Linked DNA regions of Homo sapiens: region 1 is linked to region 2. Evidence: fine-mapped QTL for protein levels in blood plasma. A gene starts in region 2. The other region holds a variant in brackets. All regions are shown on one strand. Distances are from middle to middle.

Evidence for each region. A credible set is the group of variants that fine-mapping cannot tell apart. PIP is the chance, under the fine-mapping model, that this variant and not a neighbour inherited with it causes the effect. Protein levels are from antibody-based Olink assays in UK Biobank. Linkage for the fine-mapping came from a reference panel and not from the study's own genotypes, which makes the PIPs less certain.
Region 1: its variant is the best candidate, but not a certain one, in a credible set for the plasma level of the FGFR2 protein (UK Biobank, PIP 0.53).

The regions. Positions count from the first base shown.
Region 1 is chr10:121,565,754-121,580,735 of GRCh38, forward strand. All of the region lies in intron 2 of FGFR2 (fibroblast growth factor receptor 2), which reads right to left. Among named protein-coding and RNA genes, the nearest start is that of FGFR2, 25 kb to the right of the region's middle. RefSeq lists silencers at 13,862-14,156, 14,462-14,756 and an enhancer at 14,482-14,982. The variant T/C (reference allele first, on the strand shown) is at 271.
Region 2 is chr10:121,596,864-121,610,824 of GRCh38, forward strand. It overlaps FGFR2 (fibroblast growth factor receptor 2), which reads right to left and starts at 1,581. Exons shown (of 18, transcript NM_000141.5): 1 at 1,099-1,581. RefSeq lists enhancers at 1-51, 52-787, 13,685-13,961 and a silencer at 11,845-12,084.

The sequences.
Region 1 (14,982 bases), 31 kb before region 2:
AGGAGAGAACGTCCAACAAAGGTCAGTGGAGGCCTGCTTATTCCCAGGAGAAGCTGTTCTTGCTCTGCAAATGGCCCCAGCAGGCATCCACCTCTCCCCAAGCCCCAGGAAGTCAGGAAGTATCTGGAAGAGCAACCAGAGGATACCCCCAGAAAATCTGTCCTGACTTAGTTTCCACATCCTATGGGGCTTTAGAAACAAACCAAACCATAGCATGGAAGAATATTCCACAAGAAAATGTTTAAATTGATTGCCAAAGCGTGCTTGCAC[T/C]GTAATACCTGCAAAAATCTGTTATTGTGGTATGTTTTATTTGTAAGAATGCCGAGTTTTACACATTTGTACGTGAAACGTGACTGTGCGCCACACACACATACACTCTTTATTATTTGTGCTAGACTTGGTCTGTTGCCCCAAGGCCAAGCTTCTTAAAATGAAATGTCTCAAACTCAAGGAAAACTAAGGGATCCCTCTACAAGATTTTTTGCCATCCAGAGTTTTCATGAGCTCTCATGTTCAGATCAGTACTTTGCCGGTTTAGAGACCTAATTCTGTGCTGGGTGAGCTGAGACCTGCTGTTTTCCCAAAATGATAAAAGCCTAGAGGCCTTAACACCAAAAACAAAAAGAGCAAAATGCCCAGACAGCTGCAAGGCAGTCTCCGTTGCACTTACAGGGGTCCTGAAATGAAGCCGCTGGGTGCTGTGTGCCCCCGACTCCACACGACAAAGCTGAGTCCCACCCTGCTCACCAACACCCACCACACATGTCCCAGGCTTCTTCTGTAGGGACAGTCCTTCCTCCCTCTCTTCCCTGTCATCCACCCTCCAAGACCCAAATCAAGCAGGGTCCTCCGTGATGGGAGTCACCTTGCATCAGTCCCCCTGGGCGGAAGAGCACTGGCTCCCTCCCCCTCCACCATACACCTGCCCACTTTGCCAGCTCATGGGATGCACCATATTCTCATGAATGCATCCCATCTCCCCACGGAGACACCAAGACCCTAGAGAAAAGGCGTGGGTCTCATGGTTCTCTGTGCTTCCCGCCACCGACCCCATCCTGCTTGGCAGACACATGGCCATGTCAAACAAGGTCACAGTTCCCAGATATGCAGCACGGGATTGGACCCACAAGGATCCAACCCACACAACCTCTCCACTGGAGTTGAGAGGACACCACTGGCATTTATTAATAACAACAGCTGGAGCGGCCAGCTGGGATGGCCACGAGGGCCCAAGAAGGAGGCTTTCATCCCTCCAGTGAGAAGTGTGAATGGGACCCAGAGTTCCAGGCCTAGAAAATGCAAAGCTTCCCAGCACTGAGACAGCACCAAATCAGGGCAGGATCAAAGGCAACTGTTTTGCCTAGACACCCCTCAGAAGAACAAATCTCCCACAGGAGACTGAAATCAAGTCAATCTGTGTTTCAGTCCCACTGTGAAAGGAGCAAGGGCCACATGCATTGGGGACAAGAAATCCCCCTCACCACCACCATCAACAGCCACACAGGAGGCCCGGGGCTTCTCAAGGGGGCATCACCAAAGGCATGCATGCCAAGCCCCAGATGCCAACTAGCACGTGAACACAAAGAGAGAATCACAACAAAAGGAGGAAAATAGAAGCTAAATGTAACATGGACAAATGCACCCCAAAGCAAGGAAAGCCCAGCTGACGGGCAGGTTATGTTTCTAACATTTGTTTTCTCACTCAGTAATTATTTACTGCATGTCTACTATACAACAAGCCTATTCTGGAAGCTCCGCAGCAAGAGGAGACAAGATAAAGACCCTGCACTTGTGGAGCGTCCATTATGGTGGGGGTGACAGACGATAGATACAAAATCTACAAAAAATACAGTGTTCTTGCTTAAGCATTAGGAAGAAGGACATGGCAAGGTACGGGCACACACAGCAGTGGCAGAGGAGGGCTGGTCCCTTGGCAGGAGGTGGCGGATGATGGCCCGCGGGCCAAGCCAGCCGCAGCTTGTTTTTGTAAACAAAGCTTTATTAGAACACGGCCATGCCCATTCCTTATTGTCTGGCGCTGCTTTTGTGTGTTACAAGGGCAGAGTTCAGTCATTGCAACAGAAACCCTGTGGCCTGCAAGCCCTACAATATTTGCAGTCTTGCCTTTGCAAAAAGTGTTTCAATCCCTGTTGTATAAGACAATCAGAGAGACTTCTCCAAAGAACAGGCATTTGAGCTGAGAAGTGAAGGACAAAGCGAAGTTTAAAAGATGTTGGGAACTTAGTTTGAAGGCTCTTAGAGCAGGTCTCTCAAGGCTGGTTAAGTCAAAATGCGGCTGAATTGAGTGACTAATAGAAATACTTTAAACTATGGAGACCAAACAGAAAAAAGAAAGGAAGAGAAATATGAGAAGGAGGAGAAGACGGCAGGGATTCAGTCTGGTCCCAAATCTTGGCCCATCTCCCACTCCCAACATCCTAGAGTCACAGATTCACTCAACATGAGAGCTGAAGGGGCCCCAAACGCTATTGGTCCAACCCCTTTGACAGCTGGCTAAGGCAAGGACCAGATGTCCTTTGAGTCCCAGGTCTCCAACAACTCATTGCTGAAACAGCACCCACCATGTTAGAATGAATTTACATTGGATCAGTCTGGGTCATAAAATGATCAATGTCTATTATGACAACATCACATGATCAGCAAGTCACCAGAAATGTTATGGAATGTACTTTCCTCTTAGCCAGAATTGATCACCAGGGCAGCCGCTGAGCAGAAGCAGCAAAGCTTCCCTCCCTCACAGGGAAGGCACCTGGGACCCACACACCAATCTGCTCCATCCTGACCCTCAGATAAGGTGCAACCATGTCCCTATGTCACGCAGAGGAATGCTCTAAGACTCCATTAGGGGGAAAAAAAGAAAAAAAAAAGATAAGCAAGGCATTTGCAATTGTGATGCAGAAAAAAATCTCTCTCCCGGCAAAGGAGGAGTTATGATGTATGATTTCCTGTTTTTAAATGAAAGTGTTTTCATTGAGAATCCTTTCCTTCACCTAAAATCAGTAAACCCCAAAATCTTGCTGAAACTGGGGGTATCTGAGCTGCTGGACTACCACGTGCTGTTCTAGAAGGAAGTACAGGGGACAGCGAGGACCTGTGTCTTATTTGGAGCTGGACATGGGAGATGCCTGGTGAAGGGTGCTGCCCTGGACGAGAAGAGGATGAAGCCCTGAGTTCCCACGCCTCTCCATTCCTGCTTAACCTTTTGGCCTGGTGTTCCCCATCTGTTGCAGGGTAAGAGTACCCAAATACTGGTTTATTATTGGTAAGATTCCAATGAGCCAACGAAGATGAACCTGATCATCAACTACAACATGTCGGGCTAATGACTGTCACTATTACTGTTACTCTTCAAGGCGGAAGATGCTTGCCGTGATTTTTTAAGCACCACGATTTTCAGAGGATAATCACAGAACATCTGGGTTTCTTTTTCTTTTCTTTTCTTTTCTTTTCTTTTTTTTTTTTTTGAGACAGAGTCTTGCTCTGTCACCCAGGCTGGAATCCAGTGGCACGATCTCGGCTCACCGCAACCTCCGCCTCCCAGGTTCAAGTGATTCTCCTGCCTCAGCCTCCCAAGTAGTTGGGATTACAGGCGTGCACCACCACACCCAGCTAACTTTTTTGTATTTTTATGAGAGACAGCGTTTACCATATTGGCCATGCTGGTCTTGAACTCCTGACCTCGTGATCTGCCCGCCTCGGCCTCCCAAAGTGCTGGGATTATAGGCGTGAGCCACTGCGCCCAGCCAGAACACTTGGATTGCTATCTCCAGATACAAAGTGATTTTACAGGAGTCCCATCTCAATGGACAGTTAAGATGACTTGACGTACTAAAACTGCTTTTGATCCCAGTAAAACCAGATCAAAACTGTCATCTAGATATCCAAGCTTCAAGGATAGTAAAATATCACCCCCTAAAATACACCAATGAGATAATGATGTTTATCCATAAAAATCAAGCCATCCTGTCTTCAAAGTCTCAAACCAGTAACTGCTGTCTTGGTAAACTGAGAAAGCAAGGACTCCTCCCTCCACCCCTTCAGTGGTCATTTCACAAAGGGCCCATTTTGGGGATCAGCGGTGCCTTTAGTAAACATGCCAGTAATACCCCTGGGTATCCCAGAAGACTCTGCAAGCACATGTTAGGGAGAATGCATGAATAAACACACAAGAGAGAAAGAGGTTGGGGAGAATAAAAAGAGGAGGATGTAAGTAAGAAGAGAGGCAGGGATGGGGTGGGGCCATACGCTGGGGAGGGGCCAAATGCCACACTGGTAGCCTCCCAGGCCACCCAGTGGCCCCCCAAGCCCAGCCTGCAGGGCCCAGCACACACGACACATATCAAAGACAACCCCGGCCAGGGGGCCAAGAACACAAGCACCTAACAGCTGGCTCAGTGGAAGCAGCTCTGTCCCTGCCCGTGTCCTTGGGTCCATTTGCCGTCCACAGGGCTTAGCTTCTCTTCTGGGTTTGAATGCTGCAGGTGACCTGACCCGCTGCCCACTCCCTGCAAACATGCACTCCCTGAGCCCTCCATGTTCATCCCCACAGTTGTACTGACCTGGCCCCAGGCTGCGCGGAGCCAGGACAATCAGAGAATCCCCTGTGCCTGCATGTGCAAAGGGGCCTCCCTAACTCTGGTCACCCCCCATGGATGGACAACCTCTCCCTGACTCCACCAGGCTGCACAGCCTGCTCTGTGAAAGAGCAAAGAATTCCCCAGGAAATGTACATAACTCCTTTTATAGTCATGTGAGCACTTCCTGGATTTACTTTTTCCCATTGCTGTGGCATACTTTTCACCTTTCCTGTGCGAATCCACCAGGGGTGCACAGCCCAACATCTCCCTCATCTCCTGCCAAAACGCAATGGGGAGAAGGTTCCAGAAGCCGCCTTGCTATGCACAAATGCTCTTTCAGAGGCTTCCACAGACAGAGAATATGTTTCCATGTATTTTTCACAATATGAATTAAAAGTCGAAAAGAAGCAAGCAAGCTTCACAGTAGTATTGGCCAATCTTTGTCACTGTTTCCTAAAACTGGTAAACAAACAAGGCACCAAGTCTCCTTCCTGGGACACAGCTCAACACTCGTTTCTACTGCCGTGGCCACACTACTGCAGCCCTGCTGCATAAAGCTCAGTTGCATCCACGTGAATTTTCTCCCAGAAGTTTCAAATACTTGGGAAGTACCAGCAGCGTGTTAGCAAGCAGCCTTTTTTTTCTTTTTTTTTTTGAGACGGAGTCTGGCTTTGTCGCCCAGGCTGGAGTGCAGTGGCGCGATCTTGGCTCACTGCAAGCTCCACCTCCCGGGTTCACGCTATTCACCTGCCTCAGCCTCCTGAGTAGCTGGGACTACAGGAGCCTGCCACCACACCTGGCTAATTTTTGGTATTTTTTTTAGTAGAGACGGGGTGGGTTTCACCATGTTGGCCAGGATGATCTTGATCTCCTCACCTCGTGATACGCCCACCTCAGCCTCCCAAAGTGCTGGGATTACAGGCGTGAGCCACCGTGCCTGGCCTTTTTTTTTTTTTTTTTTTTTTTTGAGACGGAGTCTCGCTCTCTCCCAGGCTGGAGTGCAGTGGTGCGATCTCGGCTCACTGCAAGCTCCACCTCCTGGGTTCAAGTGATTCTCCTGCCTCAGCCTCTGGAGTAATGGGATTACAGGTGCATGCCATCACGCCTGGGAATTTTGTTGTTGTTGTTGTATTTTAGTAGAGACAGGGTTTTACCACGTTGCCCAGCCCAGTCTCAAACTCCTCAGCTCAGGCAATCCACCTGCCTCCGCCTCCCAAAGTGCTAGGATTACAGGTGGTAGCCACCGCACCTGGCCACAAGCAGCTTCTTTAAAAACAAACAAACAAACAAACAAACAAACAAAAACGACTGGCCGGGCGCGGTGGCTCGTGCTTGTAATCCCAGCACTTTGGGAGGCCGAAGCGGGCGGATCACCTGAGGTCAGGAGTTCGAGACCAGCCTGGCCAACATGGAGAAACCCCGTCTCTACTGAGAATGCAAAATTAGCTGGGCATGGTGGCGCATGCCTATAGTCCCAGCTACTCGGGAGGCTGAGGCAGGAGAATCGCTTGAACCCAGAAGCTGGAGGTTGTGGTGAGCTGAGCTCACGCCATTGCACTCCAGCCGGGGCAACAAGAGCAAAACTCCATCTCAAAAAAAAAATAAAAAAAAAAATTGACTGTTTTGATACTTTAAAAATGAGAGAGACAGGTACTTGTACAGCTAATCAAAAAATAAATGGGCCAGGCACAGCAGGTCATGCCTACAATCCCAGCACTTTGGGAGGTCGAGGTGGGAGAATCACTTGAGGTCAGGAGTTCAAGACCAGCCTAGGGAACATAGTAAGATCCTCTCTCCACAAAAAATGAAAAAAAAAAAAAAAAAAAGCCGGGAATGATGATAAACACCTGTAGTCCCAGCTACACAGGGGGCTGAGGTAGGAAGATCGCTTGAGCCCCAGAGGCTGCACTGAGCTATGATCGCGCCACTGCATTCCTGCCTGGGTGACACAGCGAGACGAGAACCTGTCTCCAAAAATAAATAAGTAGCCCAGGCACAGTGGCTCATGCCTGTAATTTCAGCACTTTGGGAGACCAAAGCGAGTGGATCACCTGAGATCAGAAGTTCGAGACCAGCCTCACCAACATGGTGAAACCCATCTCTATTAAATATAAAAAATTAGCTGGGCGTGGTGGCATGTGCCTGTAATCCCAGCTATTTGGGAGGCTGAGGCAGAGGAGAATCGTTTAACCCAGAAGGTGGAGGTTGCAGTGAGCCGAGACCATGCCATTGCACTCCAGCCTGGGCGACATGAGTGAAACTGTCTCAAACAAAAAAAAAACACAAATAAATAAATAGTATGAATAACAACAGGCATCTGCACATGAGCTGTGAGTAATTCCTGCCTTGACCTGGCCTTCCTTCCCTAAGAAAACCATCCTGTTATTCCTTGGGAGCTCATAGGACCTCTGACTGGGGAGAGAGAGAAACTGAGGCAGGGGCTGCCTGACTCTCCGAGCCCCTCAGCAGACCATTTGACATCACACAGAGTGCCACTAGCCACAAGCTGCATGAATTTACCTCTCTATAAGTAAACAGAGAGAAAAAAATCCTCGCTGTGTGTGAAGATAGCCCCAGGAGGGGGAAATCTTGTAAAAGTCAAAAAAGGCTGTGACTTATGTGACTTCACTGCACACATCCAGCTGGACTTCTCACCCATCTCAGCGGGAGGGTTGTCTTGAGACAGTTGAAACAGCAAAAGGGTTTGGAAACGGTAAGCTATTTCAGGTAACACTTTACGTTGCCAAACCAGCGATAGCAGCACTTCAGACTGTCACTTTTTATAATGTTTGCCTATAAACTTTTCCCGTGTGGTTTTTGAAATGGCGCCCAAATGCAAACAGAGAACAGATGGGAAACCTGAGTCTTGCCCCGTCCAATCACTTCACGGAGAATGGACGACAGATTTAAACTGTTAAGGAAGAAAAAAGCAGTTTCTACCAACGGCACAGCTCCCTCCATTACTTTTCACAAATTAAGCCTTTTCTGGGGTTTCCCAGGGATGGTGTCTTTTCCAACGTCTAGATCATCCTAGTTCCAAGGATGCGGTGGGGTCGTCCTGGAACCCATCCCACTGAGGTTTCTCCCTCCTCCAAAGTCAGAGGTGTCCAATCCCTAAACACATTCCTCCAGGAAGAAGAAAGAGAGAAAGAAATCCCTGAACAGACTCCTCTGGAAGAGACAGAAGGATGAAAGAGAGGGAGAGGGGGAAAAAGGAGAGGAGAGACGGAGACAAGGAAAAGGAAGGGAGAGAAACAGAGGGAGGGAGAGGAAAGAAGAGGAAGGCAAGAGGAAGAAAGAGAGGGGAAGGGGAGAGGAGAAAGAGGGAGGGGCAGAGAGAAGAGGCAGGTTAGGAGCACACCCGGGAGGCATGTCCTGTCAGGGTTGTGGGTTGCAGGAAGAAACCCGTTTGTACCTGGAGGCACAGCTGGGACTCCCACAAGCACTGTAACAGGAGCGCTGCGGGAAGGGTAGTAAAATGGCCTTCGGTTCCCGGTGCCCTCCCACACCTCCTGCCACCTTGTACAGAGTAAATGTCACGGCTGTAGGGCTGTAGGGCTGCCAGTGTCTCTACAGGAGAAACACAGTCCGGCTGCAAATGTCGCTACATAGTCACTGCACACAAAGCACATGGCAAGTAAGTGGCCGCCACTGTCCTCCCTGGTCCAGTAACCCCCAACTGGCCCTCTTAGTCTGGAAGATGTCCTGTAGTGGCCACGCCCAGTCCCAGTAAGAAGTCCTCACTGGTCAATACCCAATTCTCTGTCCGTAGGAACAGAAGAGAGATTTCTGCAAGATAGGGTTTCTGGAAGAGCCCAGCCCCCTCTTTCCTATGGCACAATCTGGGTATCACTGGCATCAGAACTTATCAGCAGAAAGAAATAAAGGCAATGGAGGCCAGGTGCGGTGGCTCATGTCTGTAATACCAGCACTTTGGGAGGCCCAGGCAGGTGGATCACTTGAGGTCAGGAGTTCGAGACCGGCCTGGCCAACAAGACGAAACCCCGTCTCTACTAAAAACACAAAAATTAGATGGGCATGGTGGTGTGTGCCTGTAGTCCCAGCTACACGGGAAGCTGAGGCAGGAGAATTGCTTGAATCCGGGAGGCGGGGGTTGCAGTGAGCCCAGATCGCACCACTGCACTCCAGCCTGGGTGACAGAACTAAACTCCATCTCAAAAATAATAATAATAATAATAATTAAATTAAAAAATAAAGGCAATGGAGTCCCGCCATTGAAGTCAGAACCAACCACCTTTGCATGCCCTGCCATGAGGGCTGTGTACACAGCAACGAAGACAGCCTGCTGCAGCCCAGACATCCTCAAAGCCTCCCCTCTGCAAGAGCCGACTTGCAAGAAGACCAAATTCCTCACATCAAACAGAGACCTTATAAGGCATAGGTACTACGTGTTCTTTAAGGGGGCGAGGAAGGGACAAATACTCCGCACAATATAAAGGTGAAAGTTCTCTACCTCGAGAAATACTGCCAACATAAAAACGGAGAACAAAAAGAAGTCAAAGCAACAAACAACAGATAAGTACGCAGGATGAAAGGGTGCAGTCCTCTCTTTCTAACCAGTTGTCAGGGTGTCTGGTAGACACAAGTCGGGACTGAAACCTCCCTGGTCGCTAACAAGGATGCCGGTAACAACAGCTAACAGCCGCCTCTGCAGCGGTAGCTGGATTTCTCCAGAAACTCCAGACTGGCTCATGTTCCTAGTCATCAGATGGGATCATGGCTAATGTTTCCAATATGGTAACCATTAAAAATTATATATTTAGGCACACCCCTCATATCATTTAAGTCTGCCTTTGAGAAACATGCTGGATGGCTCTTCATGTTTGAAAGAAATTATATTGTTGCCCATGAGAAAATAAAAATGCACACAGAGTAAAGAGCCTAAGAATGCACTTACTGAGGAGTGAGTCACCGTGTCTCCCAATGTCCCCACCCACAGTGGAAATCCGCACTCCCTGTTTTGTCAGTATCCCTCTTGCTTTTGATCTGATGTTTTCGGCTGTTCATGACAGTGTTCTCCAAAAAAAGATGCACAGAGGGAAGGTTTTCTCTCTGGTCCCAACACGTGTATTAAAGTCATATTTCATGAGTGAAAAATTCCTGATGGACCACTAAGACGCAGGTATTGAATCAGTACTGTGTGCATAAACTCCTAGATATGGGCAGCTTTGCTTGCATAAGAACTTCAAAATTGAGTCCTGGCCGAGTGCGGTGGCTCATGCCTGTAATCCCAGCACTTTGGCAGGCCGAGGCGGGTGGATCACCTGAGGTCAGGAGTTCAAGAGCAGCCTGGCCAACATGGTGAAACCCCATCTCTACTAAAAATACAAAAATTAAGCCAGGCATGGTGGTGCACCCCTGTAATCCCAGCTACTCGGGAGGCTGAGGCAGGAGAATCGCTTAAACCAGGGAGGCAGAGGTTGCAGTGAGCCGAGATCGTGCCACTGCACTCCAGCCGGGTGACAGAGCGAGACTTCATCTCAAAAAAATAAATAAATAAATAAAAATAATAATAATTTAAAAAAATAAAAGGCCGGGCGCAGTGGCTCACATCTGTAATCCCAGCACTTTGGGAGGCCAAGGAGGGTGGATCACCTGAGGTCAGGAGAGTTCAAGACCAGCCTGACCAACATGGAGAAACCCCGTCTCTACTAAAAATACAAAATTAGCCGGGCGTGGTGGCACACGCCTGTAATCCCAGCTACTAAGGAGGGTGAGGCAGGAGAATCGCTTGAACCTGGGCGGTGGAGGTTGCCGTGAGCCGAGATCACGCCACTGCCCTCCAACCTGGGCAACAAGAGCGAAACTCCGTCTCAAAAAATAAATAAATAAATAAATCGAGTCTTTTGTTCAGAAAGCATTTCCCAAAGCGACAGGCCATTAGATCATGTAGCGCCCAGGAAATAGATACTTACGTTACAAGCTATGTTGAAGTCCTGCACGCCCCGGCTTGGATGTACAATGAGGAGTCTGTGTGCCTGGCTGCCTGGCCAGCCCAGCCCGAGCCTCCTACCTTCTGAAAATACACTTGCTGGACATAGCAGAGAAAGCTGGTACATCTCCAGCCCTTCAGGGCTTCTTGGGACACACTGTTCTGGGGAAAACCCTTTCATCAAAAGGCATGTGGGGGGCTCACAAGGAGGTGAAGGAGTGAATAGGATGTGCCTGGCCTTTAATGACCCAATCTTAGGGTGAAGAGTGGCCCTACAGAGTTGTCACTCTGTAAAATGAATGCATTGTGATCTCCAGTCCTGAAACTGAACCCTCTGGTCTCAAAACACTTCCATTCCCTGAGTCCTAATGACAGTGCTCAGCCAGAGGCAGCTCTCTTCATCTTACAAAGTAGTAAAGCACCTGTCTCAACAGACAGCTATACCCCAAGCCTCTCATGGTCCCTTAGCAGTAAGGCTATGGCCTCATTTTTGTCCCTTCTCTGGTGACTCTTCAGAAAAGGCTGGGGGTGTTAAAGGTACAGACCAAGGCCGGGCATGGTGGCTCATGCCTGTAATCCCAGAACTTTGGGAAGCTGAGGCAGGTGGATCATTCAAGGTCAGGAGTTCGAGACCAGCCTGGCCAACATGGGGAGACCCCATCTCTATTAAAAATACAAAAGTTAGCTGGGCATGGTGGCAGGCGCCTATAGTCCCAGCTACTCGGGAGGCTGAGGCAGGAGAATCGCTTGAACCTGGGAGGCGGAAGTTGCAGTGAGCCAAGATCACGCCACTGTGCTCCAGCCTGGATGACAGAGCGAGACTCCATCTCAAAAAAAAAAAAAAAAAAAAAAAAATATATATATATATATATATAGAGAGAGAGAGAGAGAGAGAGAGAGAGACACCAAACAGACCTGTCACTGACACCGAGACTATGCCACTTACAAATCGTATGACCTTGAGGCAAGTCCTCGGAGCAGGAACAATAATAAATGAGATAGGACACAGAAGGCACCCAGCACAATGTCTGGCACTTACACATCTGCCATCAGAAAGACCTTCCGGCTGAAATCCTCACTCCTCCGCTAAACAGGAAAAAAAGCAAGGCTGCCTAGCCAGGTCTTCTCAGTGTGGAAGGTCAGGAAATGAGAGAGGAGGGGGCAGGGCTCCTGGTCTATTTCTCAATCCCTAACACAGAATTGGGGGTTAATTATCTTCGGTTAGCATTCTGCTTCCTGCTGGTGCGTACATGTGCGTATGTGTTCTTATGGACAGGAACATGTCAAGGAGGACTTCTCGCCTTTCTAGGAAATTTCTCCTTCCCTGCCACCCCTCCTGTATCCATGGATATACCCAGAATTCTACCTCTGGCTCTTCTGGTCCTTTCCCTGCATTCCAGTCTCCTGGGCACGTGTGGCTTTTCCCACCTCCTCCCCGCAGATGCCACTCAAGTCCCTGCTTGTAGGTTCATATTTCCACCTGCCCGGGGGGAGGAAATACATAACCTGGATGTCTACAGAGGTCGTATCCAAAACAAGCAAGTGACCTTCAACCTCCTCCTCCTCCACCAGCCTCTTCTCTTACACGATGAAGGGAGTCACACCACTGAACTGCCGCCCAAGCTCCAAGTCGGCCCTGAAGCCCCTCTTTTCCTCTGGCCCTTCCTCTGATCAGTCCCCACACCCCTTCACCTATTAGGCCTATCCCTGATAGAAAGCTTAGCTCTGAAAGAAAGTACAGGCAAAACTGCATCCCACAGGTCTCCTCCAGTCCTCCACAAGACCTCTGCAATGCGCCTAACCCATCACCCATGGTGCGCCTCTTGTAGCCACCGCAGACCCCCAGAGGAATCTTCTGAAAAGCACATGATCTCTACTCTTTTAAAAAGGCACAGACCACTCCAAAGTCAGAGAGAATAAAACCCAAAGAACATCATGGCGCATTGAGGCTTGGTTGCTCCAAGCCCCACATCCCTCTCTCTGACACTCTGGCTTACCTGTCCACATGGGCACTGTTCCCTCTACCTACAAGCCCACCCAGCTCTGCTGCCTGGCAGGCTCCTATTCAGCCCAGTTCCAACAGCTCCTCCGTGAAAATCCCGATTCCCATTAAGACACTGCACTGCTCCCATCTCGTCCTGTTCAGCCTCTAGGACATGCACAGCCAAAGACAGTCTGCGTCCCCAGCCCACTCCACCCAAAAGGTGTACGGAGAGGGACTGGAGTAGGGATCAATGCAATGTTTCTCAGACTTTACTGTGCGTAAAACCACGTGGTCAGTTTAAGACAGCTTCCTTGCTCCCACTTCCAAAGATGCTGGGTCAGCTGGGCGCTGTGGCTTACGCCTGTAATCCCAGCACTTTGGGAGGCCAAGACAGGTGGGTCACTTGAGGCCAGGAGGTAGAGAACAGCCTGGCCAACACAGTGAAACCCTGTCTCTACTAAAAATGCAAAAATTAGCCAGGTCTGGTGGCAGGAGCCTATAATCCCAGCTACTCGGGAGGCTGAGGCAAGAGAATCACTTGAACTTCGGAGGCAGAGGTTGCAGTGAGCCAAGATTGTGCCATTGCACTCCAGCCTGGACAACAAGAGCAAAAGTCTGTCTCAAAAGGAAAAAACAAAAAAAGATTCTGGGTCAGTAGGCCTGCAGGTGCGGGCTGACATTCTTTATTTCCCACAGGTGAGGCCTGATGCTGCTGGTCCAAGACCCACACTACAAGAAGTTCAGCTCCAGTGTCCAAGGATGAGACTTTGAGACCCGCCTCTGCCAGTAGTGAACGTGTCAGCTTGGACAGCCTCACACCGCTGAGCCTCAGAGTCATGCTTTAGAGAAGAGAAAAACATCTCCAGTGCTGCCTGCTGCAGGGCAAGGTCACCACAAGGACACAATCAAAGGCTGCCTAGGAAGGCCTCTGTATATTTAAAGTGAGGGGCACGTCTGAGAGCAAGCACTCCTCATCCTGGCGGGCGGTTGGAGGTAGTGGGGGGTCCCCATCCTGCAACTCAGCCCTGGCCAGGAGGGCAGTCCTGGGTTCCTGTTTACGGGGCGTAACTGGCCTGCAGATTGCTTTTTCCAACCATGTGAGAGCCTCTATTCGCATTCCTCTGACTTCAAAACAGGTTTTCTTTCAAGTGAACAAATAGGTCTCATCACATATAAGTTACCTAAATGAGGATTCCTGGAATGTTCCCAGAGACTAAACATCTGAAGATTTTGTGAGATTCATCATTATCAACACCCATGTATGATGCCTGTTTAATTTACAAAGAGGCCTGTGGCTTCTTAAAATACCTTCTACTATTCATCCATCCAACACATTTGAGAGTAGCTGATATTTGCATGTGGGGCACAGTAACACACCACAGAATTCCCTTGAGATGAGAACCCCAGCAGGGCTCAGGAGCCGGATAACTTACCCTAGCCCCACAGCATGCCGAGAATAACCCTGCAAACACCAAACCATGGGCAAGAGTCCCCACAGCTGTGCCTCACGCAGTCCACAGAGCTAAGGGCCTGCGTTACTGCGAGTTGGGGCGGCTGGCCTGCATTCCAGAGAGCATACCCTAAAGCCTGACTCATTCCAGAAGCAGGTTTTCAGGGACAGTCACCTTGCCACACTTACTGTTACCTGTGGCTCCTAGAAGCTGCTGCTGGGACAAGCTCACCTCCCTGATATTGATGTAAACATTCAATAAATGGTGCATACTCCAGCGGATACGTTTGCCCTGTATGGCCCTGAAAGGTCAGATAGATGTCCAGATCCCGTTTGACATTTTCCCCCAAGCCCATAGAGCAGGCCCTCCCACACTGCGCACTTTCTGAATAAAGAAATACTTTTAAAGTGGCCAAGGCTACAAAAGAAAAGGGAAGGTTAAGAGTTATTCCAGGAGGGCAAGGCTGCCTCCTGCTTTCTCAACTCAGGACCTTCTGGGGGTACTGTTTGGCAAGTTGATTTAAAGGGCTCGGCCTTTCTTCTCTCAGCAGGATCTCGGTTCCAACACTCCTTCAGAGTCTGCAGATGTGTCCCCGCCTGATCCCCTCAGCAGCATCCCAGCCATTTGCAAATGAAGCAGCAGCAGCTGGAGACTGGGAAACAGATGGTCTTCCTCATTTGAATGGGTTTGAACGGTCTGCTTGAGGCTCACCAAGTTCAGGCCTGGCCAGCATCTCGAAACCCGTGCAGACGCCTGAAGGCACAGAGTTGTGGCCTGGGGAGCCGGCAGCAATCAGCTGAATGGGAATGACCTGGAGGAAAGGTTCCCCACACTGCCTTCGGGTGGGCGGGACACGGTCCCAGCTGGTTTTGCACCGCAGGACCCAAGGAAGGCAGGTCGGAGCCACAGGGATCACTTTTCTCCTGTGTTTTGCAGAGGAAAGAAAAACTCTCCCTCAGGGGATCCTGAGCCAGAGGACTGAAACCCACATTAATT
Region 2 (13,961 bases):
AGGGAAAGAGAGAGGGGCGCCTGATTGCTTTTCTATTCAAACTAAACAGGCTTTTCAGATGAAAATGAGTCGAGCCCGGTGGAAGATTTACAGGGATTTGGGACCAGGGAGACAATGGAGTTTTAAATGTTGATAGCGTTTCACACCAAACACATAATGGGTGCCCTGAGTTTGAAAGCAGGTTTGCCTTTAAGGGTAGGTTTTATTGAATTGGGAGAAAGGAAGGAGGGTCTGGAGAACGGTCTGCAAGGGAGCGGGGTGCGAGGAGAGCGACGGAGGCTGGTGGTCCCCGAGCGGGCCTCCTGCGCCAGGTCCGTGGTCCGCGAGGGTCGGAGCCAGCGCCACGCAGGGCCCTCGGCTTTTTTCCCCAGCGCGGCCCCGTGGCCGAAAAAAATGAGCGCGCAAGTTAGAACTCGCCTGCGCTTTCGACATCTCCCAGCCGCTGCGGCAGAGCAGGCAGGCGAACTAGAAAAAGTCGGTCCAGTTCGCCCCCTAGCCCCAGGCGCACTGCGCTCCCTCCAGCGCCGACGGCGGCTGCGGGCGAGGGGCGCCCAGGCACCGGAGCCGTCGCCTCCCCAGCAGTGCCACCCCTGGCCATCGCCACCCCTACGGGATGTCACCGGCCCCACCCCAGCGGCCCCCTCCCGAAAAAGGGGTCTCCGCAGGGCCTGGATGGTACGGAAGTTCCCAGGACACACGGATGGGGCACCTCGGAGATGACCCCGGGAACCGGCCTGCGGGGCTGTGCCACGGGCAGGCGAACCTTCCGCCCGTCTGCTCTGGGGTCGGAGAAACGCGCCCAGTCAGCGGGAATGCGCCCGCCAGGGTTTGACAGGGAGGGGGGCGTCAACGCCAGAAGCAGATGTCAGCATCTGGATGGGGGTAGCAGAGGCAGAACTTCCAGAACGCCGGCCGTCAGCACGCACCCACCTCCCCCATCACCTATGCAGCCACAGAGGGAGGACACGGAGCGTCCTCCACAATGCTAGTCCTTCCGCGCCCCCCGCCCGGAGGACGGTGCACCCGGCGTCCCGGGCTCCCGTGGCGCCCACGTCCCCGGCTGGCGAAGCTCCCCGAGGCGTCTTGCGCGGCGATTACCTTGAATGGCAACGCTCCTCCGCGACCTGTGTTGTCCCCGCGCCCCGCGTGGGTCGGGATGGAGAAAGCGACGAGCCCGGGGTTGCGGGGAGCAACTCCAAACGCAGAAGAGTGGTCCTTGGGTCTTCGCCGGCGCCAAGCCTCCCGGGCTTCACGCGTACCCCAGGCTGCGGAGGAGCGCGGGCATGACGCCCGCGGGCTGCCCTCGGATTTGGGGAACGAGAGGAAGAAAGGACTCAGGCTTGGCGTTGCCTCCACCAAACTTTGCTCGCGAGTTGCGAAGGCTCAGAGCGCGCAGGCAAGCTGCGGCCTCGGGGCCCCCGGGGCTCGCGGCCGGCCCCCGCCAGCCCGGAGAGCAGTCGCCGCGCCGGGCCAGGTACGCCGCATGCAGCCCCGCGGCGCCCGAGCTTTGTGGCGGCCGCGCGCGCTCCCTCGCCCGCTCCGCACCCGCCGCCCGCCCGCTCGGCTCTCCACCGCGCTCTCCTCCAGCCGCCGCCCGCGCCGCCGCCGCCGCCCCCGCCTCCTCGCGGCGGGTCACGCCCCCACTGAAACCCGAGCCGTTTCCTGGACGGCGGCGCCCTCTCTGCCAATCAGCGCCGCGCGCCCGGGCCGCCCCGAGTCCCGCGCGGCTCCCGACGCCTCCGAGCAGCCGGAGACACCGGCCCGGGAGGCGAGGGCTCGGCCGCGATGCGGCCGTAGGGATGCAGCGACAGCCTCCGAATAAGGCCTGGTCCCGCGCCCCGCGCCACCTCCTCCCTCCTCCCCGGGCGAGCGAGGCTGGCCAACGGCTCGCTGAGCGACTGCGTTACGTTGTTTTATGTCAAGTTAGAAAACAAATGACCGAAGGCTCTAACCCTGCCCTCCCGCTAAAGAGACTTTAAAATGCGCCTGCTTGATACTGCGGGGAGGGTTGCCAGGCAGCTGAAGCTTTTGGAGGAGAGGAAGCCACTTGGAAATGTTCGCAGGACATTGCATGTTTCTGTCCTTCTAAACAATAGAAATGAGAGGAAAAAACTGAATATTAATGGAGGCCCTACTATGGGAGGGTCACACTACATAGGTGATTCTATTTCATCTGCCCAACCACCCTGCAGAGTACTATTCCCAGTTTCTGATAAGGAAACAGGATCAGAGAGGTTAAGTAATTTGCCTAGGACCACACAGCTGGCTACTAGGACAGCCTGACTTTGAATGTGGCTCTCTCAGAAAAAGCCAAAATTGCATCAAAAAAAAAAAGTGTTTAATAATATATGTTTGGATTAATAAAAAGAAATTCAAAGGAGTCTAAAGACAACTCTACCATAAATAGACCTTGAACAAAGTAATTCCTCCCTCTGAATCTTAGATTAAAAATCATAAATGCAAAATCTGATTCTTCAACTGCACACCAAGCTGTAACTGGTTAAAGTTCCTATGTCCATTTACCTTTTCACTAAGCCGTGTCTTCGGAATAATTTATTTTAAATATGCTTTTTCTCCCTCCTTATTCATCCAGCTCCTGAGCAGCCGTGCTTAAGTTCAAGACCATATAGATTAAAACCTTAATTATTTTTCTTTAGAAAAGGTCACTAAACCCAGAAATGCTTTAGAATCCTTTTGAGGCCTGAAGATAGATGAAGCATTGAGAACAAACCTGACTTGGAAAACAGACTTTTCCTGGATTTAGAAACATATTTGCACCTGTGTCACTAACATTGCACCCTTCATAACATTTACAAAAATATTTTTCAAGGTGCTACATGATTAGAAAATCATTTTTATTCACAAATATAGCACAGAAAACGTTTATGCAAGTTATTTAAAAGCCACACAAGTAAGAAATCCATTTAACTGCCTCAGGCAAAAGGCTATAACATTGTATTTTGGAAATTTGATAGCAACAAAATAAAAACTGGTTCTTAAGCAAAATTATCCCTCTATATGCTTGGTGGGAGGGTATGTTTTTGGTCAAGTCCTCTAACCTGGATTAGCCCCAGAGCCTATACATTAACGGACACCTCAGCCCAGGTTGACACTTAGCCATTCACTCCCACACGGGTTGTTCTGATAGCAGTATGTTTTCAAGTTCTCAGAAAAGGGATGCAGCTGAACGTGTCTGCCTGCTCGCAGGTTGCCACTTACATCTTTATATTCCCCACCAATGGGAAACTCGAGTGTCTCAGGACAGTTCCTTTCCCATCCTACACCGCATCCATCAGCCATTGAAAATGCTGTTAACACATTCTCACATAAATTAATGGTGCAGGAAGCCGCTGTCCCTATCCCCCATTCATCAATAGCTTTATGCATGTTGAATGGAAAGGAAGCTTTCCGCTGAAAATGACAAATAAGAACACCTACTTTCATGTCCAGGCACAGTTTGCAGAATGTATTTTTTATAGAAATGAAAAGACACCAATCTATCAAAAGCTCCTTATTCCCTAAAGAGGGCTCATATATAAGGGACTGAAACCCACAAGACCACAACAGGAAACTCTTCAGTTTTGAGGAGGGGGGGGAAGTATGTTTAGAATTATTTTTAAAAAATCAATTATGTCCCCATATTTAGTCTTCAAGTGACCTCAGACCATCCAGGAAAACCTTCACACCACTGAGGCTTCTGAATGAGAAAATAATCTCTTTACAGTTTTTTCTTTTCTCTTCCCTCTTCAAGTGGCTGGAACCCCTTTCGTCAATGGCCTCCCATGAATGGTGTTGCTAATAAAGCCTATTAATGAGCTTCCACGGCGGAGTGTGAATAGGTAAATAAGCCCCAATCTGTTGAGGTTCTGGGGCAAGGGCAGAAAAGCCAGTAAGAACTAAAGGTGACAGTTTGAACTGAACTGCGAACGCCAGCACCAGGTTTCAGCTGAAAGAACCGCCAGACAAGGACACATTCACAGTTCCTCCACCCCCTACTGAGGTCTCTTTTCTTCGCAATTTTCCCCCCTTTACAAAATGTCTTGAGTAGTCACCCTTTTTTTTTTTCAAAAGCCCTCGAGACGCCCTTCTTTTTTCACTCTAGTAATGATACATCAATGGGAAGGAAGAAAAATGAGGACACCAGAACTCCGATGCCCCCAAAAGTTTCAAGAAACAAATTGTGCTGCTAGCCCGTTGGTGATGGGAAGAGAAAGGAGAAGGGGGTGGGAGCGCTCACTACCATGGGCCTCTCTCCTTTGAAGATTTGGAATTTTTCTTTTAATAATTTGTTTTGTAATGGGTGGCTGTTCCTTCACTCTATGGAAACGTTAGATGAAATAAAGGCTGCTGACATGAAGTGCTCATGAACCTTCCCGGGTGGATCTGAGCTCCCTGCAACACCAGGAATTTCATTCTCTAAGCTACATCTCAATAGTGCCCTCGGCATAAAAGAAGCACTCAAATGGAAGGATATAGAATAGTCGGAGGACTATGATAAGAGTATTTACTTCTGGGTAAGGGGAGGGGCTGGATGCTGTGACAGCTCCAGCCCATCTTCAGGGAGCTTGTGGCATTTAAGTGAAGCAAAATCATTGATCCCACTACTGAACAGCATCAATGATTTTAAACTTAGAACTGGGCCTGAATTCCAAAGCCAAGGCTTCCCCGGAGACAAAGTCCTTCTGGAAGTATAGCCTCACTTTGAGGCAAAGGGGAATGGCTTTCTTAAGGTGAGAGGCTGGATGCAGCTTTCTTTACTCAATAGCTTTGTGACCTGTGGCCGGGCGCAGTGGCTCACGCCTGTAATTCCAGCACTTTGGGAGGCCGAGGCAGGCGGATCACTTGAAGGCAGGAAGTCGAGACCAGGCTGACCAACATGGTGAAATGCCGTCTCCACTAAAAACACAAAAATTGGCCGCTTGTGGTGGCGCATGCCTGTAATCCCACATACTCTGGAAGCTAAGGCATGTGAATCGCTTGAACCCAGGAGGCTGAGGTTGCAGTGAGCTGAGATCGCCCCACTGCACTCCAGCCTGGGTGACAGAGCAAGATTCCCTCTCAAAAAACAACAAAAAAAGGCCTGGCATGGTGGCTCACACCTGTAATCCCAGCACTTTGGGAGGCCGAGGCAAGTGGATCACCTGAGGTCAGGAGTTCAAGACCAGCCTGACCAACATGGAGAAACCCCGTCTCTACTAAAAATACAAAATTAGCTGGGCATGGTCGTACATGCCTGTAATCTCAGCTACTCAGGAGGCTGAGCCGGGAGAATCACTTGAACCTAGGAGGCAGAGGTTGCGGTGAGCCGAGATCGTGCCATTGCACTCCCGCCTGGGTAACAAGAGAGAAACTCCGTCTCAAAAAAAACAAACAAACAAACAAACAAACGCTGTGTTACCTCAGGCCAGTTGCTTGAGTTATCTGAGTTTTCCATTTTCTCAGCTGTAAAATGGGGAAAATAATGGTTCTTATTTCCTGGATTTTTTTTTTCTTTTTTTTTTTTGAGACAGAGTTTCACTCTGTCACCCAGGCTGGAATGCAGTGGCACGATCTCGGCTCACTGCAGCCTCCACCCTCAGGGTTCAAATGATTCTCCTTCCTCAGCCTCCTGAGTAGCTGGGACTACAGGTGCCTGCCACCGCGCCCAGCTAATTTTTTGTATTTTTAGTAGAGATGGGGTTTCACCATCTTGGCCAAGCTGGTCTTGAACTGCTGACCTCGTGATCCACCCGCCTCGGCCTCCCAAAGTGCTGGGATTACAGGCGTGAGCCACCGCACCCGGCCTCTCCTAGATCTTTAATAGGATCACTAAGAGGATGAAATGAGTTAGGACGTGACAAGCACTTAGTTTTTCTTTGTTTTTGTTTTTTTATTTGTTCGGGTTTTTTTGGTTGTTTTGTTTTTGCCTTTGTTTTTGTTTTTGTTTTTTGGTTTTTTTTGAGATGGAGTCTTGCTCTGTCATCCAGAGTGCAGTAGCGTGATCTTGGCTCACTACAACCTCTGCCTCCTGGGTTCAAGTGATTCTCCTGCCTCAGCCTCCCAAGTAGCTGGGACTACAAGCGCCTGCCACCACGCCCGGCTAATTTTTTTATATTTTTAGTAGAGATGGCATTTCACCAAGTGATCCACCTGCCTCCCAAAGTGCTGGGATTACAGGCGTGAGCCACCGCACCCGGCACTTAATTGTTTTTGTTTTGGTTTGGTTCGGTTTTTTGAGACAGGATCTTTCTCTGTCACCCAGACTGGAGGGCAGTGGCACAATCACAGCTCACTGCAGCCTCCAACTCCTGAGCTCACGCAAGCTTCCCACCTCAGCCTCCTGAGTAGCTGGGACTATAGGCATGCACCACCATGCCCAGCTAATTTTTGTATTTTTTGTAGAGACAGGGGTCTCATTATGTTGCCCAGGCTGGTCTCAAACTCCTGGCCTCAAGTGATCCTCCCTCCTTAGCCTCCCAAAGCACTGAGATTACAGGCGTGAGCCACCATGCCCAGCCTCGCTTAGACATTTTTATTCAGGTGGTCCTCATGGTTTGGAGAAACTTTGACACACGAGCAAGTCTCTTGAGGATTACTATCCATACACAGTAGTCCACCCTGATATGCAGTTTCCTTTGCCATGGTTTCAGTTACCCTCAGTTACCTGAGTTCAGCTGCAGTCTGAAAATAGGTGAGCATAGTACAATAAGATATTTTAATTGAGAGACCATATTCATATAACTTTTATTATAACTGTCCTTTTTTAATTAGTTTATTATTATTAATACTTTTTTTTTTTTTTTTGAGACAGAGTCTCGCCCTGTCACCCAGGCTGAAGTGCAGTGGCGCCATCTCGGCTCACTGCAACCTCCACCTCCCGGGTTCAAGAGATTTTCCTGTCTCAGCCCCCCAAGTACCTGGGATTACAGGTGCCTGCCACCACGCCCGGCTAATTTTTGTATTTTTAGCAGAGACGGGGTTTCACCATGTTGGCCAGGCTGGTCTCAAACTCCTGACCTTGACTGATCCACCCGCCTCAGCCTCCCAAAGTGCTGGGATTACAGGCATGAGCCGCCGTGCCTGGCCTATTATTAATACTTTACTGTGCCTAATTTAGAAATTAAACTTTCTCATAGTGTGTAAGCGTAGGAAAAAACATCCAAACAGGAGGCGTCACAATGCCCATCAGTGCCCACTGCTCCCCAGCAGCGGTCCAGGGGGAGGCAAGGACAGTGCCAGGCAGAAGACACTTTTCCTACTAGGAGAACCACATATAAGGGTGAACAAACCACTGTATATGGCTAAGAATAATCATAGAAAACACGTAACCTTCCCATGTGCCAAAGAGTTTCTCAATACCATGAGGACCATACAAATAAAAATGTCTAAGTGCTTGTCACATCCCAGTTCATTGAATCCTCTTTGACCCTATTAAATAGCTAAGAGATAGCAAAGACACCTCTGTTCCCAAGGAAAGAGCTTCTTGAAAACCACTAGGGACATCTGAATAAAGGCTGCCCTGCTCTAACCATTTCTTGAATTTCTGAGTGACTTGAACGGCACAGGTTGTTCTTCCGAAGGAGACCAGGCCTAAAGGTGAAGAAGTGCATGTCAAACCTATGACAGCGCATCAAGTATGACCCCTGGATTTTACAGGGGAAGAAAGCAGGGCACACAGAGGGATGATGGGCTCAAAGTCACCCCTCTGGTTAATGGCAGCAAAACCCAGAAAAGTCTGTGTTCCTGACTCAGCTGGGGTTACAATGGCCACTAGTACAAGTCCACCATGGCAGGTGAGTCTCACCCATCCAATGCCAGGCAATTGGCTCTTTCTAGGGGATTCCACATCTTTCTTTCTTTCTTTCTTTTTTTTTTTTTTTGAGACAGAGTCTCATTCTTTTGCCCAGGTGTTGCCCAGGCTGGAGTGCAGTGGCGCAATCTCAGCTGACTGCAACCTCCACCTTCCAGGTTCAAGCGATTCTCCTGCCTCAGCCTCCCAAGTAGCTGCGACTACAGGTTCCCGCCACCACACGTGGCTAATTTTTGTATTTTTAGTAGAGACAGGGTTTCACCATGTTGGCCAGGCTGGTCTTGAACTCCTGGCCTCTGGTGATCCAACCACCTTGGCCTCCCAAAGTGCTGGGATTACAGGCATGAGGCACCGCGCCCGGCCAGAATGGAGATATTTCAAGTAGCATTCATTGCCTCTGAAACTGTTACTATTTCCAGAAAACAATTACCCACTCACCATGAGTTCAGCTCACTTCTCCTCCTTCAAGTGCTCCAAGAAGGATTTCTGTAAGGGTTATTATTGTTGTTAATATTTCAAAGAGCCTTCAAGTTTAGGTGCATACGCTTGTTAGACACCTCTTTCACACACCTACAGTTTCATCTGCTGAATCTGCATAGTCTTCAAAATAGGGGAGGAATAAAGGAGCAATTTGTGGTTCACAGAACGACTATTGTCAATAACAAGTGGAAGTGAAAAATTTTTAAGAATTACTAAGACTTGCATTTGAGAAATTAAGACTTAAAACTCTGCGACACATTTGCAGTTTACAAATGAGTAATCGGGTTTGTTGCCCAAAATGCAACGGAAGGGCAATTTGGGAAACTTGAATGCATTCTGTGTTTTTAAAAAAATTAAACAAAAGCAGAAATCACTATAAAAGTGGGGGGGGGGATAATTGGGAAAATTTTAATATTGTCCAGATAGGAGATCATATTAATATTAGAGATTGAATATTAGAGATTGTTGTTAATTCACTTACATAAGATTATGACAGCTTGGCTTTGTAGGAAATTTTCTGTATTCTTATGAGATCCATGCCAAAGTTTAAAGGATTAAATGGCTTGATGTTTACAACTGACTTTCAAGTGGCTCAGGAAAAAAAAGGACAAACACACACAGATAAAGCAAATATGCAAAATGTTAACTCTTGACACTATACAGTTGAGAGTATACATTACTTATTGCACTATTCACCCAACTTTCTTAATGTTTAAACAATTTCACAATTAAAACCTGGGGGAACTCTAGTGGAGGGCATTATGGACTCTGACCCCAGTACTGTCCCTTGTGCCACCCCTGTGGCCACAAACACATTCCTACCTTTGGCTTCTGCCAATCTGAATCTATGAAGGAAAACTGGTAGGTCAATTAGCTGGTTGGCCAAGCCAGCTGCATGTAACATCTACAATGTCCAAGGTCTCAAGGTATTTTTGACAAGTAATGTGGTGCCATAGAAACAGCACTGAGTCAGGGCCCCCAAGACCTGAGTTTTTATCCCAACGTGGTCAAGGGCTAACTATGCAAGTCTAGGCAAGTTACTGAACAAGCCTCATCCCACCCCTAACCTTGGCCTCACCTTCTTTTGCATAACTGAAGTGTCCCCCTTCTATCTTAAAAATAAATTTATCTATGATCTCCGGCCTATCTCTGAACATTCCCCGCCTCCACCTGGAGCTGAAAACTTGTGGTTCACCCATCACTGAAGGCCACCCTGGTGTTACAGGAAGTGAACATCCTCTCCAAAGTATTCTGAAACCATAGTCTAGGAACCGTGCTGTTCCTACTGGTAACAAGTATCTACCGGAAAAGTCCTCTAATCCCTGGCCCATTGCTATTTAAGGGCAATTTATGGCATGTCATTTCTTGGCTGTGACTCCGTGCCTTTCAATCACCCCCACCCTCCACACATCACGACCACTTCCACCACAACGAGGTTTCCCAGCTCACTGGACAGAAACTATACAGGTGGTTTTAGCCAGGGTGGGGTAGATGAGGATGAGATTAGCAACAATATCCCGTCTGCTCCCACCCCACCCACACCCTTATCGCTGCCTGAAGCTATGCTGTCTGATAACGTTAACCACCAGCCAACATGATTATTTAAAGTTAAATCAATTAAAATTAAATAAGACTTCAGCTCCTCAGTAGCACCAGCCACAATTCAAGTGCTCAACAGTCACATGGGGCCAGGCCACTACATTGGAGAGTGCAGTATTATAGGGTATTTTCAACGTGGCAGACGATGTATTGGGCTGTGCTAGAGAGCACACCCTGCTTTCCGCTTCCTCCTCCAAGAAGACCTCCTTAGTCAGAGGAGTCCCCAGGAACTGCTCTTGCTCTCCCTCTCCAGGTCCCCCCGCTCATCACCCCTGGACTGCTCCCCATGCCCTAAATGGGCATCTTGCCTTACCAGGGTGGAGGTAGGGACAAGAATTCTACTCCTTAGATGGAGAACGGTGCAGGAGATACACGGGACAGGTCTTACTGTTGACAATGAAAACGATTTTAGCCGGGCATGGTGGCACACGCCTGTAATCCCAGCACTCTGGGAGGCTGAGGAGGGCGGATCACTTGAAGTCAGGAGTCTGAGATCAGCCTGGCCAACATGGTGAAACCCGGTCTCTACTAAAAAATACAAAAATTAGCTGTGCATGGTGGCATGTGCCTGTAATCCCAGCTACTCGGGAGGCTGAGGCGGAAGAATCGCTTGAACTGAGGAGGTGGGGGCTGCAGTGAGCCAAGATCGCGACACTGCACTCCAGCCTGGGACACAGAACAAGACTCCGTCTCAAAAAAAAAAAAAAAAGATTTTAGTCTGCACCATCACCTTCTGATCCTGGGGCCCCCTGGAAGCAGCTCCTGGTCTCAGTGGGAGTTTCTATGGGCCCTAAATTCCTCCCTTCGAGGATTCCTGCTCCCTCAAATCCTCAGAGATTCACAACTGTGTGCTTTCAGCCTCAAGCCCAGAGGGAGGAAAGGCTTTACTGAACCAAGATAGCCTGTCCATGGAAGAAAGCCTAGCAGAAACTGACCTTGGACAACAATTTTGGTGGAAAGGGGTTAATTGGGGACCACTAAATGCTAATACTCAGAAAGGCCGGGGCTGCATCTCCCATCTCTAGATTCCCAGGACCTGGCACTACCTGGCTAGTGGGAGCAGTTTATGGGGCTGTGTTTATACCTTACAGGCTCTTAATAGATGCTTGTTGATTGATGACTGCAACTCAGCCTCCTCCAGCATTTCCTAATTAAAGCATAAGTGCAAAGAGGCACATGTACATAGGTTTGTGTACACAGTGAGCACGGTCTCTTTAGAAGGTGGGGAATAGAAGCCAGTTTAGGACAAAGCTGATTGAGCTGTGTGAGGAAGTTACCTTTCCCTGCAATTACCTCATTTCCACGATGCGTTTCTTTCTCTTTTCTCTTGATTTCTGCCTTTGCTACACTCTTTCCCGAGGGTGTGTCTACTTCTTCCAAATGTGAAAAGAAGTTCACTTTCGCCAGGCACGGTGGCTCACGCCTGTAATCCCAGCACTTTGAGAAGCCAAGGCGGGCGGATTACCTGAGGTCAGGAGTTCGAGACCAGCCTGGCCAACATGGTGACACCCCGGCTCTACTTAAATACAAGAATTAGCCGGGCGTCGTGGCACACGTCTGTAATCCCAGTTACTCGGGAGGCTGAGGCAGAACTGCTTGAGCCCGGGAGACGGAGGTTGCAGTGTGCTGAGATTGCGCCACTGCACTCCAGCCTGGCTGACAGAGTGAGACTGTCTCAAAAAAAAAAAAAAAAAAGAAGAAGTTCACTTTCATAAACCAAAGGGGAGAAAAATGATGCTGCCAGGATCCTGGTAAACTCGGGGAGGGAGTGGAGAATACAGAGCCCCACACATCGTAAAACCACAAACCTAGTAACCCTTTTAGAGTCCCAGAGCTCTCGTATTGTGTCCCCAAGCTGGGGAGAAAGACCATCAAGTGGGGAGCGATTTCTTTAACAGATTTCTAAGAGCAGCGCTGAGCAAAAATTAACTCCTTCGCGGAGGCCGGATGCTGGCCTGGCGCTGGGGCAGCGCCCGGGAAGCAGGTGGCTCCAGGTGAGGGAGGCCGAGGTCCCGGGGCGCCCTTTGTTCTCCGGGTTCTGCGCAGGGAGGAGCGCATCGGGCGCCAGCGCCCCCGTGTGGCCGCGAGCACCGCGCGCGCAAAGCGGGGGCGAGCGCCGCCCGGGGCGTGGGTGACGGGGCTGGCATCAAGGTAGAGGGCGGCCGGGCAGGGAGGAGGGGCAGCCCCGCCAGCGCCGAGCCCAGCCCTGAAGTCGTTTCGGCTGTGCAGATGATGAGCGACCCAGGTCGAGGCGAATCAGGAGCCCAGGTGCTTGCCCAAGCACAGCTGGACGAAATGTCTGTTACCCCGACGGCTGGGGCGCGGGACCTTGCAGGGACGTGGTGCTGCAGCGGCCTCTGCCTGGGCCTGGCGTGCGGCTACCTCAGGCTAATTCTCCATTCGCTGCGTGGATTCGCCCCCGGGAGGCGGCCCCACGTTTCCAGCCTGTGGATCAACAAGGCGGAGAACCACCTTTGCACCCTCGCCGGGAAACCAGCTCCTACCTCCGGCCCCCTGTTGGGCCTTCTGGCCCTGGTGTTCTCTGGCGCTCCTCTCCCACCAAGGCCCGGCAGTCCTAGCTGTGGGCTGTCCTCTCTCTCTCTCTCTTTTTTTTAACCTCTACCTCCCGGGTTCAAGCGATTCTCCTGCCTCAGCCTCCAGAGTAGCTGGGATTATAGGCATGTGCCACCATGCTTGGCTAATTTTTGTATTTTTAGTAGAAACGGGGGTTTCACCATCTTGGCCAGGCTGGCCTCGAAGTCCTGACCTCGTGATGCACCCGCCTCAGTTTCCTAAAGTGCTGGGATTACAGGCCTGCGCTACTGCACCCCTTGGAGCTGTCCTCTCTTGAAAGCCACCACACCTGCTTCCTTCCTAGTCTCACCACAGCTGCCCTGGAGAGGTACCTGCCAGATTTGGGGCAGCCTCCGCCTCTGGTCTCTCCCCTGCCAGTCACCCTGCCCAGAGGTGGGGACCCCTGTCCTGCCCTTTCATCAGGCCAGTGGAAGCTTTGAAGGTTCCACATTTTCAGGAACCATGGCAACGGCCCTCTTAGCACAGAGTGGGTGCTTGGAGGCTGACGTTTATTGGGTGCATACCATGTTCCATGCAACTGGGATTATGGCCTTTAATGGGTGATCACACTTCAATCACAAGCACCCTGTGAGGTAGCACTACTGTGACCCCCATTTTATAAATCGTGCTATGGAAACACTGAGAGCTCATCCAAGGTTACACAGTCGGGAGGGAGGGCTGACCCTGGAGCCTGTGCTATCGCTTATGCTGCCAGCGTCCCCGTGACGGTGATGGGGTAGTGACTTCAGCTGATGAATGGAAACAGAGGCTAAAGGGGCTGATTCTCCTGATCTTCCCAGAGAAGTTGGCTGTCCCATCCAGATGACAATTGTCCCAGTTTTCAGATGTTGACTCCTTTTCTAGTGGGCCTGTGGACAGCAGGCTGCACCCTCTGCTGTCCTATAGTGGCTGAGATCATGGGACCTGGAGTCCAGCTGCCTGCTCTGGGCCTTACATCTGCCCCTCCTCACCACGTTCTCATCTGTAAAATGAAGTCATGCTAATACCCGCTTCACACAATCTGCGCAGATTGAATGGAATACTTCAGGTGAAGTGCTGAGTGCATGGTGAATGATCAATACTTGTCAGCTGGTACTAGTATTTCCAGACCAGAGGCATCCAGACCTCCCTCTGCAGCTCTGTCTAACCCTATCCTACCCCTGACCTTATTACTTGCTACTTCTCTTTGCTGTGTGACCTGGGGTAGGTTACTCGGCTTTTATGAGCTTCTGTGGCCTTATTTGTAGGCTGTGAATATTAGCGGTAATCATCTTCAAAATTCACCCATAATGGTATTGATTTCAGTAGCAGCTTAGGCTGTCCAGGGCAGGGGACTTGCTCACATTCTTCTAAAGTTCTTCTTAGCATCACGTAGAAATTCATTCCAGTGTTGACTCATGACGGTCAGCAAATTCTTCACCTTATCCAACTGAGTTATCTTTTGCTTTAAATTTCTATTTAAAGAAATCCTCTGTATACGAGGAAAGGATCCATTTGTTTTCTTTGTAAAACTCCTCTG